Homo sapiens: one gene and its partners. The protein of the gene in region 2 purifies or fractionates together with the protein of the main gene of each other region. This does not show direct contact. Each region holds a gene or a part of one and is shown on either strand. Other genes may lie near its edges.

Evidence for each region.
Region 1: the proteins of PEAK1 (region 2) and CARNMT1 purify together in Homo sapiens (co-immunoprecipitation; one large-scale study listed by IntAct). This does not show direct contact.
Region 3: the proteins of PEAK1 (region 2) and WRAP73 purify together in Homo sapiens (co-immunoprecipitation; one large-scale study listed by IntAct). This does not show direct contact.

The regions. Positions count from the first base shown.
Region 1 is NC_000009.12:75,018,170-75,021,823, forward strand, and holds part of CARNMT1 (carnosine N-methyltransferase), read right to left. Parts: intron 1-3,654.
Region 2 is NC_000015.10:77,112,605-77,116,258, forward strand, and holds part of PEAK1 (inactive tyrosine-protein kinase PEAK1), read right to left. Parts: intron 2,716-3,654; coding exon 1,552-2,715; 3' UTR 1-1,551. UniProt on the Homo sapiens protein: Probable catalytically inactive kinase. Scaffolding protein that regulates the cytoskeleton to control cell spreading and migration by modulating focal adhesion dynamics. Acts as a scaffold for mediating EGFR signaling.
Region 3 is NC_000001.11:3,636,588-3,640,241, reverse strand, and holds part of WRAP73 (WD repeat-containing protein WRAP73), read left to right. Parts: intron 1-1,419; coding exon 1,420-1,492; intron 1,493-3,143; coding exon 3,144-3,247; intron 3,248-3,654.

The DNA of each region.
Region 1 (3,654 bases), on a different chromosome or scaffold from region 2:
TCCCACCTCAGCCTCCCAAGTAACTGGGACTACAGTCATGTGCCACCACACTTGGCTAATATTTTTGTATTTTTTTGTAGAGATGGGTTTCATCATGTTGCCCAGGCTGGTCTCAAACTCCGGGGCTCAAGCAATCTGCCTGCCCTGGTCGCCCAAAGTACTGGGATTACAGACATGAGCCACCATGCCTGGCCATAAGAACATCATTTTTTAAAGTTAAATATATACTCACAGTATATCATTTTTATATTGACAAGATGGCCAAAATTTAAAATCCTGACTATATCAAATTTTGGTGATTGGTGAAAATATGGTGTAATTAGGACATTTACACACTAATGGTAAGTGCATACATCAGCGCAACCACTTTGGAAAATTAAATTTAGAGCATTACCTAGTACAACTTAGCATGGTACTTGCCTTATGACCTAGCAATTATATCCTAGAAACTCTTGCAAATGGGCCCCATGAAACATGAACAATCTTTGTCATAGCACTGTTAGAGATAAGAAACAGGTGGGCGCAGTGGCTCATCCCTGTAATCCCTTGGCACTTTGGGAGGCCAATGTGGGCGGATCACTTGAGGTCAGAAGTTCAAGACCAGCCTGGCCAACACGGTGAAACCCCATCTCTACTAAAATATAAAAATTGGCTGGGCATGGTGGCGCCCACCAGTAATCCCAGCTACTTGGAAGGCTGAGGCAGGAGAATCGCTTGAACGCGGGAGGCAGAGGCTGCAGTGAGCCGAGATTGCACCACTGCGTTCCAGCCTGGGCGACAGAGTGAGACTCCATCTCATAAAAAAAAAAAAAAAAAAAAGGAATAAAATATCTGGAAACAACCCAAAGGTCTACTATCAGAAATTATCATATAGTTACTATAGAATGAAGAAATTACAGTATAGTTATACAGTGGAATGCAGCGAAATGAGTAAATTACAGCTCATACAATAATATGTGAAGACTAAACGCTGATCTTTTTTATATTTTCTCTCTTCTCCAAGTTCTTCACTAAGAGGCCTGGGGAGTCATGCCTTACTAATTACGAAATCTCACTGGACAGGTTTTTATTAACCCTATATAATACGACTTACTTTCCAACCTGACTCTGGTATGGCATCTTATGACAAATAGCAGACTCAGAAGGAAATCAGAATATTTTACCCCAAAATATATTTGACATTTTGAAATGGCTGCCACATGGCCAACGGATTTCAATGGCCCCACAAAGCCATGTTTCCTAGGGGAAATATGCATCTGTCAAGAATCTCCATTAATGCAACCAGGCCTTCCTTTCTAGGCCTTTCCTGGATCCAGGAGAGATTAACTGAGAGCCTGATAACATTAAAGTCTAAAAAGTGACATTTAGTATCTCTTCCCTCTGAGGGCTGCTACCTAGGAGGCTTCAATTAACTTAACAAGAACCTTGGCCTTCACAAGCCCCTTAACTCAAGCATTCCTTTCTACTTACCATAGCTTACCTCTATCAACCAACTACCAGCTGAAGAATCCTTAAAACCCACCTATGACTTGTAACCCCCTCTTTAAGATGTCCTACCTTTTGAGTGAGATCAATGTATACCTTGCATGTAATTCCTGTATCTAAAATGTATAAAACCAAGCTGTAACCTGACCACCTGGGGTGCACTTTGTCAGGGTTGTTTGAGATCGTGTAACCACAGGCTGCAGTCACTATCATATTGGCCCAGAACAAACCTCTAAATATATTTTGGCAGAAATTGGTTACTCCCATCACCATCTGGATAACCTCAAGAACATATACATTTGTTGAAAACAATTGCAGTAAAATACATAATGTACAATTGCATTTCATAGAAAACTAAATATTATTTAGGGACTGAGCATATGTGGAAAAACTACACAGAAAGCAAAGAAGTAAAAATTCAGGTTAATGATTCTGAGGGTGAAAGAGACAGGATAATGTGTTTTAAAAACTAGGTGATTTATAAGTGTTCACTGTAATATTCCTTACATTTTATATCTATATATGTATGTGTATATGTTTAAATGTTCTTTGGTATTAATTCAATATTAAATGAAAATGGAAGTATTTTTCATTTTCTATTTCATTTTTCTTCTTTTTTTTTTTTTTTTTTGAGATGGAGTCTTGCTCTGTTGCCCAGGCTGGAATGCAGTAGCACGATCTCAGCTCACTGCAACCTCCCCCTCCCAGGTTCAAGCGACTCTCCTGCCTCAGCCTCCCGAGTAGCTGGGACTACAGGTGCGCGCCACCATGCCCAGCTGATTTTTGTATTTTTAGTAGAGACGGGGTTTCACCATACTGTCCAGGATGGTCTCGATCTCTTGACCTCGTGATCTGCCTGCCTCCGCCTTCCAAAGTGCTGGGATTATAGGCGTGAGCCACCGCACCCAGCCTTCATTTTCATTTTCAATTTCACTTTCATTTTCAATATCTTTGTCATTTGGTTTCTTAAATCTTCATTCATCCAAACAATTTTCTTATTTTTACCCTCTGCCAAATTATTCCAACTGCCAAACAGTAATGAACTTCAGAAGAAGCTCCTGACAAACAACCAAAAACCTGGCTGGTCGCGTTTTTACAAGCTTGTGTTTGGTGGCTTGGTGTGGGGGGCCCTTAGGGATAAGGTGAAGAGATCAAGTTGTCAGAAGCTCCACTGACATGCCCCTCTGGGGAGAGTATAATAATGAGCTTTGAAGTCAGAAAGATCAGGGATGAAATCCAGGTTATGACACCTATTTGCCACATGACACCAGGCAAATTACCGCCTTCCTTTGTCCAACTCTCTCATATACAGAAGCAAGATAAGAATGAACAATGATGATGATCATGGAAGCTGCCATTTGAGATTTAATAAATACCAGGGACTAAACCAAGTCAGTTAATACGGATTATTCTGAAAGATCTTCATAATTAGGTAGGTAGCATTACCTTCCTCTGCCTAGCAGACAGGGTTTCATTGGAAAAATAACGTACTCAAAAGATTTAGCCCAACAGCTGAAAACACAGCAAGCGCTCAAAATATATATACTATATATATACCTACTGTTCAATATACTATATAGAGTATATATACATAGTATATACATAGTATATATGTATATATACATAGTATATACATAGTATATATACTACTATATACATACCATATATATTATATATAGTATATATACTACTATACATACCATATATATTATATACATAGTATATATCTACTATATACAGTATATATACTATATACATACTATATATAGTATAAATAGTATATATAATATAAATAGTATATATAGGATAAATATATATACTATATATATATATCTACTGTTCAAAAAAGGAGTAGGTATATCTCATTTATATTACTAAAATGTTCAAAGCATGAACAATGTAGAAATTAGAAGTACTCAGGAAAGAAGGCCTAATAATTCCTCTTCTAGAGGGAACCACTTCTAACCTTTTGGCACATTTCCGTTTTGCTTAACACAAAGTTGCAGTGGCTCATGCCAGTAATCCCAGTATTTTGGGAGGCCAAGGTGGGAAGCCTGTTTGAGGCCAGGTGTTCAAAACCGGCCTGGGCAATATAGCAAGACCATCCTCTCTACAAAAAAATAAAAAAACAAAATGAGCCAGGCGTGGTGGTGCATGCCTGTAGTCTCA
Region 2 (3,654 bases):
TAAACACATACTCACAGTTTTGAATAAAACAAGCACAGGTGAACATGTGTATACATACACACACACACACACACACACACACACACACACACACACACACAACCCCAGTGGAAGGAACGCTCATCTCTTAGCGCAAATATGTGCCAAGGGAAGAAGGGGGAGGGTTTCTGTAGACTCGCTTCAGGTGAAGTTGCAACATAAACACTGTAATATACAGCTAAAAAAATACATACAAAAATTGCACACATATCCATAGAAGGGGAGCACAGGCTGCACACATGGTGAACAGCTCTCAATCACCCACCTCAGCAATCAGAATTCCTGTGAGCTGTCCTCCAGAGCCATTTTACAGAGTCAGAAGGAGCAATGAGCCACTTAAACACTGGGAGGCAGTCTCTCTAGAAGAGGTCAACCTTCTGAGGAGGTCAGCAGTCTCATCAGTGGCCTTCTTCCTCTCCCCTGCCTACGGCCATCCCAACAGCCCACCTCACTGTGCCCTCTAAAGGAGATCTTAGAGCTCCACTGACAGCTATTTCATTCAGGGCAATTGTTTACAGCATTTGGTAAACTAGTTAACACTGGCTACTGATAGAAGGGAGCTGGCCAATTACTGCTCGGGGAAAACTGCAAATGCTGACAGTTCTGACAGTAATCAAAGGGTACTTTAAACTCTGTTTCCTGATGGCCCCTAGAGAATTGCACATGCAAGAAAATCATCTCCTCATGCCCTGCCAGCTATTTATAAGCTCTGAACTGCACTCCACCCTGCTGAGGCATTGGTGACACCACCTTGGGTCAGCTCTGTAATGGGCCACAAGTGGCTGATAAATCCAAACTTCACTGGCAAGTGGGGACAGAGTGGAGAATCAGGCAGTGGCAGCAGAGGGGAGACTATTAGGGCTGTCCTCCATGCAGTGCACATACTTACAGATAATGGCAATGAAAATGGGTCTATGACCCAAGGATGGGATCTCTCCTTTTCTTTCTACTCTCTCCTGGAACAAAAGATATAGTCCCTGGTAACCAAAACTGGGCTGATGCTAAGGATGGCAGTCCTGCCTAGTAAGTCAGTTGTTGACACCTTAAAGGAAGAGTCTGTTGTCAGAGTCTACTGGGTCGTGGTAGAGACTGGTTAAGTCTGTCTACTGCTAGTGAGAATAAATACTTGGTGCTAAAAAGATAGGTGATATCCAGAATTATGGAGGAAATGGACACAGCTCACTGGCTGAGTTCATACCAAAGAAGCTGTCCCTTCAAGAATATGGATTTTCATTTTTACCTGCATTTATGGGACTATTAGGATAGAAGGTGTTTCAAGGGAAGGCAACTGCAAGTTTGTGCAGCTGAATTTCTGTAAAGTTAAGACAGACTCAGCTTCTCATTCAATCTGGGGCAGTGGATAACCTTTCTGAATAGACCCACTTGTTCACGGACAGGGATAGAGGTTTGCCTTTCTTCTTTCCTTGAATTTGGAGTGAGCACTAGGGAGGGGAAGTGCATGGGTGACATGAAGAAGGTGAAGATGTAGTAAAAGCATCATCCAGGTACACATTAACGGTGCTGCAGAATTTTCACAATACAACTGAGGGAGTCTGTAGTGGCAAAAGCCAAATACTGAGCACAAAGCCAGTCCTCAAGGCTGATTCCACCTTCCCTGTCCAGGGACTTCTCAGCAAACTTGATCATGAGCAGTGTTCGCTTGATGTCTAGCCAGTTTTGGAGCAGGGTGTTCCTCTGTACTAGGCTAGGGCAGGCGGTGAAAGTCTGGAAGAGATCTTCGCGGGGGCCCCAGAGCAGACACTGGAGGATGCCTTTGGCGTCTGAAATGAGGATCCGCTCAGAAGGGTTGGGATTCAGGAGGCAGCTGGCCAGCTGCTGCAGACCCCGGGAGTAGGGGGAGCGGAATGGGATGCGAGGCAGGTCTGCTCGTGTGTATTCCCTCTCCTTCAGCTCTGGGTTCTCATCAAAGGGGTTGGGTAGGTGCAGCATCTCATAGATGAGGATGCCTGTCTGGAACTCATCACACTTTTTATACTGGGTAGCTGTTATGATCTCTGGGGCAAGGCGAGACTGGTCCCGGAGGATCTCGGGGTCCACCAGATGGCTCTTCTGCTTGGCCTGAGAGAAGTTGCTCACTATAAGCCTAGTGGGATAAGATGAGGTGGGGCTGGGCTCTGCAGGCCCAAAGCCTTGGGCAGTCCCCCCAGGCTGGTAGTGGACAAGTAGCAGGTTCTCTAGGCGTAGATCGCAGTGAGTGACATGGTAGGGTTTGAGGTGCTCAAGACCAGAGCATAGCTGTAAGAGCAGCAGACACACCTGCCTCTCATACAAATCAGGGCTTTTCCCATGCTGGGCCAGAGAGTCTCGCACAAAATCAGCCACAGTAAGACATGGAACCTCCCTGGTGATGACCACAACGTGGCTCCTCTGCTTCTTGCTCATGACTCCCTGATTCTCTTTCTGGGATGATGCTGCTTCAGAACAGGGCTTTGGGTTTTTCCCATCCGTTTCTCCTTTGGCGTCTTCTTCAGTCTCTTCCATGTCATCCTCATCCTTTTCAGGGTCATCTGGATCCTCCCAGGGAAGCAGACGGTTAGGGACTTCAGCAAGGAAATGACCACAGTCCTGCTGAATGTTAAAATGGACAGCCAGACTCTGCCGGACAGCCAAGCTGTGATAATACTGCTGAGATTCTTTAGCTTTGCTCTTACAGATCTGAAAGATAATAAAACAATTCAAAACTCACACTCTCATAACCAGGTTTATGATGTATCAGGGAAGATTAACTGGAAGGTGACTGGTTAGGGACAAACGATCATATAGTAAAGTTGTTCGCAAGGCTTGCCCCATGTTAAGTGGCAATAATAATGGTGGTAACCATTTCTCATGGTTGTCTACATGCCAGGCTGTGGTGAGCACTTTAAGTGTACCATTTTTAGTCCTCACATTAACCTTTCACAGTAGATTGAGGATCTAAGAATTTAAAAAAGAAAAAAAGCCCGGGGTTATGTGTGCAAACCTAAGTTTGTTTAATGCCAAAGCCTGCTCTTTCCACTATAACCTTGCACCTCATCAGAACAACAACAATGAAATAATTTTTCTCTTACTTCTGTAGAGGTTTGTAGCCCAGAATGATACAGCAGGCCAATGGACTCATAATGGAGACCAAAATACCTTATTTCATCACCCATCGCCCTTTGTGTCAACATCTCACAGCTTAGGAGAGTGATATAACATTGGCCAGGTAAACTGTGGGTTTTCCTAACTTTTCAATGAATGTCATTGTGATGGTCACAACACTGGCACTCATGGTTCACTGGTAGGGTTGAGAGAGTCACTGGTCTGACCTAGTCAGAACAAAGCCAACATTTCAATGGTGGTTTTCTGAGTTTTATGCTTTCTCTTAACAGGCCTCATTTAATACCCACTATTGAGGCAATAAAACCTTTCATAAAGAACTTTACTAAGTGGTTATGGATCAAGGAAGAATTTTTTGATCAAAAAAAGTTAGCCAAGAGTTCTACATACTGTGACGATTCTATTTCTACTCTTAAGGGGTTATCAAAGCAAAAAGTAAGTAAAACCACCCCCAAATGGGTTATTCTCATGCTATAGAGAGGCTGACCGTGGAAGACTGAGTCTCTAATACTAGTT
Region 3 (3,654 bases), on a different chromosome or scaffold from region 2:
AGCAAGTGCTCTGTGCAGCTGGAGTTCCGAGGCATGGTCCCCAGAACGGCCAGTGTGTTTCGGGTTCAGCATCAGCACAGGAGCCCTTCCGTGCTGCCACGTGACCCCTGGAGCTCGTTGATCCACTACCTGTGTGTTCAGGACTTCTCTCCTGAACGCTGTATATGTTGTTTGGAGAAACAATTACAGACATCAGATTTTCTTTTCTGTTGTAAGAAGAGATGATGCGTAGACATTTAAATTAAATCATTTGTTAATATCCTATACTGACAACCTGGCAGCGTTTGCAGGAGTGACACTGTGGACATGCTGTGCCCCACACGCTGCGGCCCCACTTACGCTGCTGGAGACGGTCCCCCACCCCGGGCCTCATCCTCAGCGAGGACCCCTGCCTGACACACACGGAGCTGGCAGTCAGCACCCCACCCCGCATGGAGCTGCGCAGCCCTGTGTCCCCACACACGGAGCTGGCAGTCAGCACCCCACCCCACATGGAGCTGCGCAGCCCTGTGTCCCCACACACGGAGCTGGCAGTCAGCACCCCACCCCGCACCTTGTGTCCCCGCACCTCGGCCATATTTCAGTTAACTACCAGATTCATCAGTGGGCCGGGGATGTGGGAAGCAAGATGATTCCCTGGTAGGCTCCACGGGGTCTCAGTGGGAAATGCAGGTGGAGGGACACAGCAGCCCTGGAAGTCCCGCGGCGCTGCCACGGGGAGGGCTGGACCACCCACTGCGGTGCCTCTCCCTCAGCAGGCACGCCCTCGTCGGCCTGGTTAGAAAATCATCTTTTGGCCTCACTGTGCCAGCCTAGTCAGCTCTCAGCTCCCTGAGTCAGGGAAAGGGGTGGAAAAGTGGACAGTCCAGCAGCGCATGTTCTAGAACCCTCTGCAGATGCAGCCAGGCCAGCGAGCACACGCAGGAGGCAGACGGACACCTTCTTGGGTGTTGAGTGGCTGCTCCTGCCTCAGGGCTGCAGATGCAGGCTCACAGCCCCCTGGTGAGTCCCGGAGTGGCTGCATCCAATCTCCAGATCCTCTGTCTTCCCATAAAGGAGACTGAACCCGTGGTGGTTTCTAGATCAAGATTTTTCTCTGAGTAACTCAGGGTTATTATAACATGCAACCTATGGTCACTTTGAAAAAGCTAATGAAAAAGCACTTGGATTTAACTTTGTGTCACTCAATTTTGGTATAAAACAACAACAACAGAAAACCAAGAACACCAAATTTACCGTAACCACAGTAAAATACGCATTTGAATATTCCGGTAGGAGGGCAGGCATCCCCCAGGTCCTGATAGATCCACTCCAGCAGTCAGGCCTGTGCTTGGGGACGCGTGGGCGGGTTGAGGATTGAGACGGTCTCTGATGATGCTAAAGAAGTGTTTCCTTTCTCTTTCCCCTTTCCCCCAACAGCTGCGGATAACCGTCTGGTCCTTGTGCACAAAATCCGTGTCTTACATCAAATACCCGAAAGCTTGTCTGCAGGGTGAGTCGATCGGAGCCACGCAAAAGCCATTTCTTTGCAGCTGTTTGACTTTTTTGTCACGGGAAGTTTCAAAGAGGCAGAAGTAGCTTCAGCAGCATATCAACACATAGCCAACCCCCTTGGGCTCTTTTAAAGGAGACCTTAGGTCTCCTCATACTTCATCTGTAAATATTTCCATATGTGTCTCAAAAAGGCAAGAGTCCCCTTTTAAAACATGACCACAGTGACTCAAGACAACGTGGCCTAAGACATGGAAGAACGGTGGCGTTGATGCCGGTCCCCTTGACCTTGGCGGCAGAGCTGGGCGTTCAGACCCCTTCCAGCCGATGCCTGTTGAGAGGCCCACCTCAGGCATCCAGTTCTGAGCTTTCTCTCTTCTGTGGACTAAATATGATGTCTGCGAAAGGGGGAGGTCTTGCCTGTCATCTCTGGGCATCCCAGAGGGATATGTGACCAGTGTCCCTTCCTTGTGGAAGCCTGTGAGCCATCTGGAAGAAAGGGGGCCGGCGCAGGGTGGCCCACTGCCAGCGCGTCTAACTGGACCGCGCAGAGCTAGTGGGAGGTGCCACTCCTGAGTCCTGGACGACACCGCACTGTCTTTTTGCGGAATGAAACATACACAGTTGGAATGATGCTTTCATTTTTCTCTGTTGCTGCCAGCGGTTTGGAAATTGCATTTGAATGCAATGCAGTCACACTCTTATTCTTATAGTTGGAATATTAGCGTCCCTCCAGATGAGATACATATCTCTTGATAGGAGTGGACACCGTGGTTTCGTCATTTGAGGTATTCTTTTCACTCAGGAATGATGAATTCTGGCCTAGGGCTTTTTAAGCTAATACAGAACTGGAAAATAAGAGTTTAACATTTTCAACTAAAGTTTCTTCCACATTTTCATCTTATTATTACTTTTTTGAGACAGGGTCTTGCTCTGTCACCCAGGCTGGAGTGCAGTGACACGATCACAGCTCAGTGCAGCCTCGACCTCCTGGGCTTAAGTGATCCTCTCACCTCAGCCTCCTGAGTAGCTGGGACTACAGGCACACACCATCACAGCCGGCTGATATTTTGTAGAGATGGGGTTTCACCAAGTTGTCTGGGCTCCTTTCAAATTCCTAGGCTCAAGCGATTCACCTGCTTCAGCCTCCCAAAGTGCCGGGATTACAGGCGTGAGCCACCATGCCTGGCCACACATTTTCATCTTCAGTTTACTTCTTCCAAATAATTAAATTCAAAGGTAAAATAAATATGGTAGGAACCAGCTGCCTTTTGCCTAGCTGGAGATAGCCCTGGGTGTCCCGCAGCTTAGACATGGGGGGACTCGAAGGCCTGTGTTTCTCACTCATATTTGTGATTAATCAGAGGTCACATCACTTGGTATTTTTGACAGAGCCTTGCAAACCGGCTCCTGTGTGTGTACAGCTTCCCCCAGCACACACTGCGTTGTGAGGGTGAAGGCACCGTGCCTTGGGTTTCTCCTCTGCGCTAGAATGTTCTTGTCTGTCTGAGGAGCAGTGCTCGGCATTGTGCCATTTCCCTTCTTTTCACCTCTGCTTTCTTTTCCTCCTCCTTCCTTGTGAATTACTACTGTGGTTTCTCTTGCTTGATTTTGTGGCCGCTTGATTTCAGTGCATTTGCCTCTTCCCACAGGAATCACCTTCACCAGGGACGGCCGCTACATGGCGCTGGCAGAACGGCGCGACTGCAAAGATTACGTGAGCATCTTCGTCTGCAGTGATTGGCAGCTCCTGCGGGTAAGGCGTCCCCCAGACTGGAATAAAGTTGTCCTGCTGACTGTGGAGGGATCGAGTGAAGTAGATCCTTCCAGATTCCAGGGGATCTTTGGTAGGATATGGAGCAAGGTGATGTTGTATTAACAAAGGGCAGGTGCGCTGCGAATCACTTCCAGTGGCACCCGGTTGTGTGTTCAGGAGACTTGGTGAAAAGGACGCGTGCCCAGGTGTTTTAAAAGTGAATATGCTGTCACATTTGAGCCCTTTTCCTTGTCCTGTGTGATGGTGTTTGCGCATGTGTGTGCCACGTCGGGAGTTGGGGGGACGTGGAAGTTCACCTTGACTGAGGGCCTGCATTAGGCAGGGCGCTCTGCCAGGTGCCCAGGCACAGAGGGCACTGCCCCCACAGCAGACATATGAACACGATT